Linked DNA regions of Homo sapiens: region 1 is linked to region 2. The links come from fine-mapping of genetic effects on gene expression. A gene starts in region 2. The other region holds a variant in brackets. All regions are shown on one strand. Distances are between the middles of the regions.

Evidence for each region. PIP is the estimated chance that this variant, and not a neighbour inherited with it, causes the effect.
Region 1: its variant is the best candidate, but not a certain one, in a credible set for the expression of OSTN in sun-exposed skin (GTEx, PIP 0.89).

The regions. Positions count from the first base shown.
Region 1 is chr3:190,962,757-190,968,148 of GRCh38, reverse strand. No RefSeq gene overlaps it. Among named protein-coding and RNA genes, the nearest start is that of SNAR-I, 88 kb to the right of the region's middle. The variant C/T (reference allele first, on the strand shown) is at 2,617.
Region 2 is chr3:191,196,652-191,202,043 of GRCh38, reverse strand. OSTN (osteocrin) reads right to left here and starts at 2,803. Exons shown (of 5, transcript NM_198184.2): 1 at 2,737-2,803.

The DNA of each region.
Region 1 (5,392 bases), 230 kb after region 2:
CATTTTTCTTGGGTAAAAATCTAGGAATGTAACCACTGAGTCCTATGTAGATGTATTTCTAACTTTATAAAGTAATTGCTAAACTGTTTTCCGAAGTGGTTAATTTTACATTCCTACTAGAAATATGTGAGATAATAGTTGCATATACTGAGATAATACTATGTTTTTTCCCTTTAATCCATCAATATGTTCAATTACATTAATTTATTTCTTTAATGTTAACTCTTGCATTTTTGTAGATAATCTCACTTATCCTATTTATTTCCTTTGGAATATTAGTTTGTAGTTTTCTTTTATATTGATATCTTTGTCTTGTTTTGATAGCAAGAGATGATAAAATGATGAGAGGTTTCCACTCCTTCTCTATTTTCTGAAAGGACACTCATTTCTACCTTGGCAGGTCAATAGGATTCATCAATGATGCCATTTGGGCCCTGAATGTATTTTTATTATGAGTACAATATCTTTTCTCCCCTTTTTAAGTTAAAACTTAAAAATTATTCCTATTTATGAGATACAGAGTGATATTTCCATACATGTATACAATGTATAATAATCAAATCAGGGTAATTGGCATAACCCTCACCTTGAACATTTGTTATTTCTTCGTATTGTGAGCATTCAAAATCCTCTCTTCTAGCTTTTGAAAATATATTAATATGGTTTGAATATGTATCCTCTCCAAATCTCATGTTGAAATGTGGTCTCCAGTATTGGAGGTGGGGCCTGCTGAGAGGTATTTGGATCACAGGGGCAGATCCCTCATGAATGGTTGACATCATCCCCTTGGGGATAAGTGAGCTCTCACTCTGAGTTCACACAAAATCTGGTTTTGAAAAGTGTGCAGCACCTTCCCCTACATCTCTTGGTCCCAATCTTGACGTATGATGTGCCTATTCCTGCTTTGCCTTCTGCCATGAGCAACAGTTCCCTGAGGCCTCCCCAGAGGCCAAGCATATGCCAATGCCATGCTTCCTAAATAGCCTGCAGAACCATGAGCCAATTTAATCTCTTTTCTTCATAAATGACACAGCATCAGGTGTTTCTTTATAGCAACATGAGAATGGCTTAACACATATACACTAAATTGTTGTTAATCATATTCACTCTATAGTGCTACAGAACACTAGAACTTATTCCTCTCATCTAGGTGTAACTGTTAATTGACCTCTTCCCATCATCCCCTCCTTCTATCCTTCCCACCCTCTAATAACCACAATTCTACTTCTCAGTTTTCCTTAGCTCCCACAAACAAGGAAGAACAAGTTTGACCTCAATTTCTTTAATTGATATTGGACAGCATAGTTTTTTGTAATTCTTTCTGTTTCTTCAAAGTATTCATTCATTTCATTTAATCTGTCAAATCTATTGGCACAATGTTCATAATATCTTGCTGTCCTTTCAATGTCTGAAAATCATAGTAATATCCCTATGATACTAGGTATGTCAGACCTAATATTAGTAATTTGAGTTTCTCTATTTTTCTTAATCAGTCTCCCTAAAAATATATCAATTGTAGATACCTTTAAAAATCAGCATTTGTTTTATTAAATTTTCTTCAGATTCTATTTTAATAATTTATACTCTTATTTTATCATTTCTTCTATTCACCTTTGGTTTTTTTTTTTTTTTTGAGACGGAGTCTCGCTCTGTTGCCCAGGCTAGAGTGCAGTGGCGCAATCTCAGCTCACTGCCAGCTCCACCTCCCGGGTTCATGCCATTCTCCTGCCTCAGCCTCCTGAGTAGCTGGGACTACAGGCGCCCGCCACCACGCCCGGCTAATTTTTTGTATTTTTAGTAGAGACAGGGTTTCACCGTGTTAGCCAGGATGATCTCGATCTCCTGACCTTGTGATCCGCCCACCTCGACCTCCCAAAGTGCTGGGATTACAGGCGTGAGCCGCCGCGCCCGGCCTCACCTTTGGTTTTAATTAGCTTTTCATCTAACTGTTTAAGGTGAAAGCTTAGATCATTGATTTTCTAACATTTTTCCTCTGCTAGGTGGTTTTCATTTTCACTCAGTTCTAAATATTTTCTAATTTTTAAAGTTTGAGAATAATTTTTCAAAATTTAATTAGCTTTTCATCTAACTGTTTAAGGTGAAAGCTTAGATCATTGATTTTCTAACATTTTTCCTCTGCTAGGTGGTTTTCTTTTTTATTTATTATTATTATACTTTAAGTTTTAGGGTACATGTGCACAATGTGCAGGTTAGTTACATATGTATACATGTGCCATGCTGGTGCGCTGCACCCACTAACTCGTCATCTAGCATTAGGTATATCTCCCAACGCTATCCCTCCCCCGTCCCCCACCCCACAACAGTCCCCAGAGTGTGATGTTCCCCTTCCTGTGTCCATGTGTTCTCATTGTTCAGTTCCCACCTATGAGTGAGAATATGCGGTGTTTGTTTTTTTGTTCTTGTGATAGTTTACTGAGAATGATGATTTCCAATTTCATCCATGTCCCTACAAAGGACATGAACTCATCATTTTTTATGGCTGCATAGTATTCCATGGTGTATATGTGCCACATTTTCTTAATCCAGTCTATCATTGTTGGACATTTGGGTTGGTTCCAAGTCTTTGCTATTGTGAATAGTGCCGCAATAAACATA[C/T]GTTTGGCCGAATAGGAACAGCTCCGGTCTACAGCTCCCAGCATGAGCGACGCAGAAGGCGGGTGATTTCTGCATTTCCATCTGAGGTACCGGGTTCATCTCACTGGGGAGTGCCAGACAGTGGGCGCAGGTCAGTGGGTGCGCGCACCGTGCACGAGCCGAAGCAGGGAGAGGCATTTCCTCACTCGGGAAGCGCAAGGGGTCAGGGAGTTCCCTTTCCTAGTCAAAGACAGGGGTGACAGACGCACCTGGAAAATCGGGTCACTCCCACCCGAATATTGCGCTTTTCCGACGGGCTTCAAAAACGGCGCACCCACACCAGGAGATTATATCCGGCACCTGGCTCGGAGGGTCCTACCCCACGGAGTCTCGCTGATTGCTAGCACAGCGGTCTGAGATCAAACTGCAAGGCGGCAGCGAGGCTGGGGGAGGGGCGCCCGCCATTGCCGGGGCTTGATTAGGTAAACAAAGCAGCCCAGAAGCTCGAACTGGGTGGAGCCCACCACAGCTCAAGGAGGCCTGCCTGCCTCTGTAGGCTCCACCTCTGGGGGCGGGGCACAGACAAACAAAAAGACAGCAGTAACCTCTGCAGACTTAAATGTCCCTGACAGCTTTGAAGAGAGCAGTGGTTCTCCCAGCACGCAGCTGGAGATCTGAGAACGGGCAGACTGCCTCAAGTGGGTCCCTGACCCCTGACCCCTGACCCCCGAGCAGCCTAACTGGGAGGCACCCCCGAGTAGGGGCACACTGACACCTCACAGGGCGGGGTACTCCAACAGACCTGCAGCTGAGGGTCCTGTCTGTTAGAAGGAAAACTAACAAACAGAAAGGACATCCACACCAAAAACCCATCTGTACATCACCATCATCAAACACCAAAGGTGGTTTTCATTTTCACTCAGTTCTAAATATTTTATTTTCTAATTTTTAAAGTTTGAGAATAATTTTTAAAAATGTTTTTCCTATTAATTTAACTTTGACTACATTTTGGTCAGAAAATATATCCTATGTGATTTTAATTTTTTTAAATTTATTCTCTTTTGGTCTTTTTTGGTGAATATTTTATGTGCACTTGAAAAGAATATGAATTCTGCATTTGTTCAATGGATAATTATATGGAGAAGTTTAGATAAAAACTGAAGAACTTTGTGATAATAAATAAAAGTAAGGAACTTGTGTGATGCTTAGCAACCCATCCAGAAATGGCTGAAAGTAATTTTAATTTCAATTTTACAACGAAATTAAAGATATCTTCCAATGTAACTTATTTTAGTATCACGTTCTGGGTAAAATGTTTGTTTATACAATTATACAAGAGTGCTTTCTGAAACAAGAAAAAAAGACAGCTAAATATTGCTCTCACTCCTTATACCTCTATCTACCTCTTGAGATGCCAGCCTAAGTCAGTAAAGAACTGTAGTCTTTTTTCTTGATTGTGAAATTACCACATTCAGTGACAGGAGGGCATCTGCAATCCAAACAATGCTCTTCCCTGCTTCACACGCTCAGCAGTACCCTCTGGAGAGCAGTACCCTCTGGAGAGCAGTAGCAAGGAAGCAACACTTATGGTACTTACTATTCATTTTTCAAAGTTCCTCTTTAGAAAAGAGCCCATAATACTTCACACAAGTAATTACTTATAAATAAATTACAACTTCTGGTCTTGGGGTCTTCTTAGAGATCACGCTTCCACAGAAAGCAGAGCACAGTATTTTGGCCACCACCTTAACAGGATCAGTGTAATAGTCCGTTTTCATGCTGCTGATATAGACATACCTGAGACTGGGAAGAAAAAGAGGTTTTAATAGCCTCTCAGTTCCACGTGGCTGAGGAGGCCTCAAAATCATGACAAAAGTTGAAAGGCATGTCTCACGTGGTGGCAGACAAGAGATGAGAGCTCTGTGCAAGGAAACTCCCATTTTTAAAACCATCAGATCTCATGATACTTATTCACTATCATGAGAACAACATGGGAAAAACTCGCCCCCATGATTCAATTACGTCCCACCAGCTTCCTCTCACATCATGTGAGAATTGTGGGAGTTACAATACAAGATGAGATTTGGGTAGAGACACAGCCAAACCATATAATTTCCACCCCTGTCTCCCCCAAAATCTCATGTCCTCACATTTCAAAACGAATCATGCTCTCCTAACAGTTCCCCAAAGTCTCAACTCATTTCAGCATTATCTCAGAAATCCACAGTCCAAAGTCTTATTTGAGACAAGGCAAGTCCCTTCTGCCTATAAGCCTGTAAAATCAAAAGCAAGTTAGTTATTTCCTAGATACAATGCGGGTCCAGGGATTGGGTAAATACACCCATTCCAAATGGGAGACATTGGCCAAAACAAGGGGCTAGAGGCCCCATGCAAGTCTGAAATCCAGTGGGGCAGTTAAATATTAAAGCTCCAAAATGATCTCCCTTGACTTCCTGTCTCATATCCAGGTCATGTTGATTGAAGAGATGGGTTCCCATGGTCTTGGGCAGCTCCACCCCTGTGGCTTTGCAGGGTACAGCCTCCCTCCTGACAGCCTTCTTTCATGGGCCGGCATTAGGTGTCTGCTGCTTTTACGGGTGCATGGTGCAAGTTGTCAGTGGATCTACCATTCTGGGGTCTGAAGGATGGTGGCCCTCTTCTCACAGCTCCACTAGGTGGTGCCCAAGTAGGAACACTGTATGGGGGCTCTGACCCCACATTTCCCTTCCACACTGCCCTAGCATAGGTTCTCCATGAGAGCTCCATCCCTGCGGTAAACTTCTGCCTGGCCATCCAG
Region 2 (5,392 bases):
ACATAGACCTGGATCTGAATCCTGATTAGGCATGTCATTTAGCCTTTTTGTTTTAACTTCTCCTTCAGAAAAATAGGGCAAAGACCTAATTTGTAGGCTTAGTATGAAGATCAGAAGTAATCTGGGTAAATCAGCAGGCATAAATTAGTTACTCAATAAATAACAGTTATCATTATCCTGATATTGCCTTTGAAATATGGCAACTTTTCAAAATGTTTTTACTACTTTTTAATTTTTATGAAAAAATATTTTTATCCTTCATTTTAACGAACAAAATTATTCCTCAAAATCTAGAATTAAGGCAGAGTGATAGAAAATATAGTAAGAAAAATAATATTGAATGGGGGAAGAAAATTTCACTCTAGAGAGTTATAAATAGAAATCACTCTAACATTTGGTGCATTATCATTATTTTGAGTCATAATATTTCTATAAAAATTGCTTCCAACTATAAAAAATGTAATCCTGGGAAAGAAACAAAAGAAAGCTCAGCTGTACTGAAGGCATCATTATTCTTCTAGCTCTAATTGTGCCACCTAAAGTGAACTTTTAATACCATTTTATATAATATTTTAAAAGTGGAATTTTCACATATTTATAGCCTTAGGTACCCTGGGAATATAGAATTTTAGAAACAGAGGAAGCAATCATTAAAAATTGTCAAATTTAATATCCACAATTAATAGATGGAGAAAGTGAGGCTCAGAGAGAATGAACCTGCTCAAAGGAGGGGAAAGAAGATAATAATATAGAAATTGTTGAAGAGGAAGAGAGAGCAGAAGGTGGTGGCAGAGGCATTGTTACTGGAGGGAGGAGATGGTTTGTATTAAGGTCTGAGCTGATGGAGTGGCAATAAGGAAGAAGGCATCACTGCTCCAGGGATGTACCGTGACACTTATCTGAAGAAAGAAGAGAAAGAGCTAGCTAAAAAAAATAAATAAATAAATAAAAAATGAAGCCTTTAATCTGAGAGATCTTAAGCCATTTGGAGAGTTGGTTCATTTAAGAGAGATACCCAGAGTTAGCACCTTGTTGTAGCTTACTTGTTGTATCCCCACAAGCTCCTGAGGGGAGGAGAATAAAGCTTCAGGGAAGCTGAATGGTTTGTCCATAAAGCTGTCGAAGTCAGAACTAGAATTAGAAGTCTAGTTTTCTGCCTCCAAAGCTTGTATTTCTCTGACTGAACTATTGAATCTAAGCAAAAGTTGTCTGGTAGGTAACAGTCATAGTAAATGAAATATTGGCAAAGCAGTTAAATTAGCTCTAAAGATTAGTCCTAAACTTCTGTGATACTGAGGTTTTATTCTCTAATATAGGGAAAATTGACTGACATGGGGGCTTCCTCAAATATTTTTATACTCAGTATCCCTAGCACTTCTATTTTTTTTTGTCCTTTTCACAAGGACAAAATACAATATTATCAAGCCTTAATTCGTGCTTAAGGCTTGCCTGCAGTTGTATAGGTGGATTATAGCAGAGCTAGAATGATATATTAGGATTTCTTACTTCGAGTTCTTTATTTTTGAGACAAGTTCAATTAATCTAATTTTATTAATCAAATGTTCAAATCATTGAGAGTATTTGTAAAAGAAGTTAAAATTATAGCCCTGAGGTTCCCGTGCCCAGTCAACTGAAGATATCTGCTTCTCTACTGCTCATTATTCAGTATATAAGAATCAGTTAAAAATCCTGAGAAATAAGGGGGAGAAAGCAAATGTCAACCTTAAACACTCTGAATAATTTTTGAATGAAGCCATAGTAAAATTCACTGACATGAAGGAGACCTGAACTGTTATCTACAGAAAGTGCTCCTTAGAAAAGTTCTGTAAGCGTGCTGAAGAGTAGTACCAAAGTAAGAGAAAACACAGAATGTCCCTGGTGTTTTTGGTATAACACTATCAATTCTATAACTTATATAGGCATTAAAATTACCATAATTCATTCTCAAAAATGTTAAATTTTTAGAAGGAAAACTCATAAACAAATAATAATCACATTCCTAAACCTATAGAGTCTGTTATTCAAAGAAACAACATTTGAATTGTTAGAACTGAATTCACTGAGTGCACACTAAACCTGAAATAAAATTTTAAATTTCTTCTCCAACAGAGCTCAAATGTATGTTTCAGATTAACTCTCAATTCAATCATTGAATAGCAAGAGCACTACAAATACTGAAGAACAGGCATACTCTAAGTCTACTCCAACTATGTTATTAATATCATATTTGCATATTTGACATATAAGGAGAAAAACAGAAGATGCATTAGGTTTTAAGAACATAAGAGATAGAATTTCATTAGTTTAGGGATGTTTCTTAAGCTCCAGTTTTGATAGAAATAATGAGGAAAAAACCTTTCTTTTTTACCTAGGTTGTTTAGACCACTCTTTTATATTAAACATTTTTCTAATATTACACAATTTTGAGGAAAGCAAAATAACGCTAATAACATATATATGTATAGAATTATTATTTTGCATTCACTTTCTGTTTGTTTTGAAATGGAAGAGAAAAGCAATCTTATAAATATGAAATATCTGAATAAGCAATTAGTTCTACCTTAAGTTTGCATTACAAAAATATCTTTGATTTTCTACTCATTTTAGAGAGGGAAATATTACCACTCTAATTTTAACAAAATCAAGATATAATCAAAACATTTAAAGAGTCTGTGAAAGTAAAAATAATAGTTAAAAGAAGCATTAAATCTTTATCAATTTTTACATATAACTTACCTCGTGAAAGATCAGGAGATTCTAACTTTAGAGTACTGTCTCTGCAGTTTCTCCAAAACTCAGCCCTGGTGGTGAGTTTTCTCTCTGAGTTTTTATAGTCTCAGTTATACACCCCTTACTCCAATCCCTGCCTTTGCTTTCTCTTACATCATTTCTACAGATTTTCCACTGAACATTTTCCCAAGCCTCTCTTCGATCTCTTTCTCTCCCTCCCTCTCCCTTCCTTCTTCAGTTTCTCCCTCCCTCCTTTCCCTCCATATTTAGTCTATCTATTGCTTTGATCATGGCATTTAAATAACGATGGAAGTATAGGCTCTGGAAAATTTGAATATAGATTTAGTATTGTGTTCAGCTTCACACCCATCACCTCTTCCTGAGGTTTTAGTCAAGCTCTGATTATTACAAATCATATTTGGGAAATAAAATGCACTAAGATTTGTTAAAAAGTCACCAGGGAATTTCAATGTACGATATAGAGAGATTGTAATCAGACACAAACGGATTTATTGGTGTAATTTTTGGACCTTTAAATGATCAGCTATGGAAATAATGAGTACTTTCAGCCTCCGTCAGGTGCACAGTGCTGTGTCAGTGAAACACAATGACAGCTACTTCGTAATTAACATTGCTATACTGGGAAGGCTGTCACTAACAAACCTATAAATACTGAGCTGTGACATGTGAGCTATAAATGAAGACGTTGTAATCATTTTTGTCTTGCTCTTGTTCTTCAGTACTTTGATTTCTTTTTAACCAAAATATTTCTGCCTTTGGCTGAAGGTTTTCTTTCATTCTTATCTCCTACTAATTATATTTGCATCCTTACATACACAAATTATTTTTTAAATGAATTATTAAGTTATAAAGGTAACATGTTATGTTATTAGATCGTTAATGGCTCATTTGATTCACCAGAGGGTCCCCATCTGACAGGTAAAGAGGCCAAGGCTCAGATAAATTAAGTGACTTTATGAGATCACACACGTAAGAAGTAGTCGCAGAGCTGGATTTCAAATGCAGATCTTCCTAATTCCATATCCAGTTCTTTTCCCACGACTGCATTCTATCTCACTGCTTTAAAAGCTAGAAAAGAGAATCCAAACCAGATTATATTTTTGCACAAAAAGCAATAAATTTATTCTTTTTGGTTTCCCTAAAAAGGCCATTTAAAATACTAGTCACTAGTATAAGGACAATTACATGGTTAATTTGGATCTAGATGGGGAAACTGACCAGAGCACACAGAATTAGTGGGACAGTAAAATGCTTCATTTTTATGATGGGTTTCCAGGGATAACATATGTCTCAACAAGCTTGAAATTTGAGTAGTTGGCAGAGACAGTTCACAAATCAAGATAAAAATACAGCCTAATTGTGGACCCTTGTTTAGACATTACTGCCATAAAACAATTATGTTAGCTTGAATCCACATGATGGAAAACTCTCAATATAGAATTAATGGATGCATCATAATGCTACCAGAAGCCAATATTATTGGCATACCTTCTACCCTTATTTGAAATGCCGCTCTTAGCATGCCGACAAGTGATATCTGTGGCTGATTTATTCCAGATCTGTCCCTGCTTAGACAGTCCAAAGATTCCTCCCTATTTGTGGATTTTGTTGACCTAATTCAAAAGTTTGACTTAACTGTTCTGCAGCAGTTGAAATAGCAACAGTTTATTCCAGGAACATCCATGGTACATTTAAGCCATTTTTACAGCCTTCTGTATATTATACACCTCTATATGATTTACTTATGCATTTACACATGATAGAAAAATTCCATTACCTTCAAAAGAGAGAGGAAAAATGGGAACATGCAAAGAAATAAAAAGATAAAGAGAATAAATATTCAGTGTTGGATGGGGAGAGTCTAAGATGAGAAAGGGAGAAAATATTAATGAAAACTTTTTCAGCTAGCGTGTCATGATTTAATTCCCATAACAACCTTGCCAAGGAAGTATACTTTTTCAAATATAATGAATAGAAAACTAAAGCTCAAATCTGTAAAATGGGTGGCCCAAATCTTCTTAGCTTAGAAGTGACAAGACAAAGGGTTGAACCTTATTATCTGTATCTGTCAGAATCTGGCAGAAAAGAGATGGCACATTCAAATTGAGTAATTTGAAGAGAATGAGATGTGAACATCGTGTAGAAGAACCAGAAGGGATCATGTGGTATAGTAAACCCTAGTCCTGAAGAGTCAAGGATAGTTACAGGGACGCAGAGACAAAGGGATCCTGAGTAGAGAAAGTTGTCTGGCAGAAGTGTGACATTTCACAAAAGGACATGGCAAGTCAAGAGCAAACCAGAGGGCATGGAACCTATGAAATAAGCACCAGATTTCACTCTACTTCTTTTCTTCAGTCTCCTGTGGTGTTTCCCTTTGCTGAAACCAAACTGGAAAAGAGATTGAAAGAGGGGAGATAAAAGGGACCCAGTACATCATTTAACCTCAAAACTGTGCTCCGAGAAACACAAATTGGGTCCTTTGTAAAGACCAACATGACTGCAAATGCCACTGTTATTCACATTGTTGTCTAATATTTCCTGCTGTTTTTTTCAAGTCAGGTTTGTTGAGGTAAAATTTACATACACAACATTTACTCTTTTAAACTGTAGAGTTTGACGAGTTTTGACAAATGCAGATGCT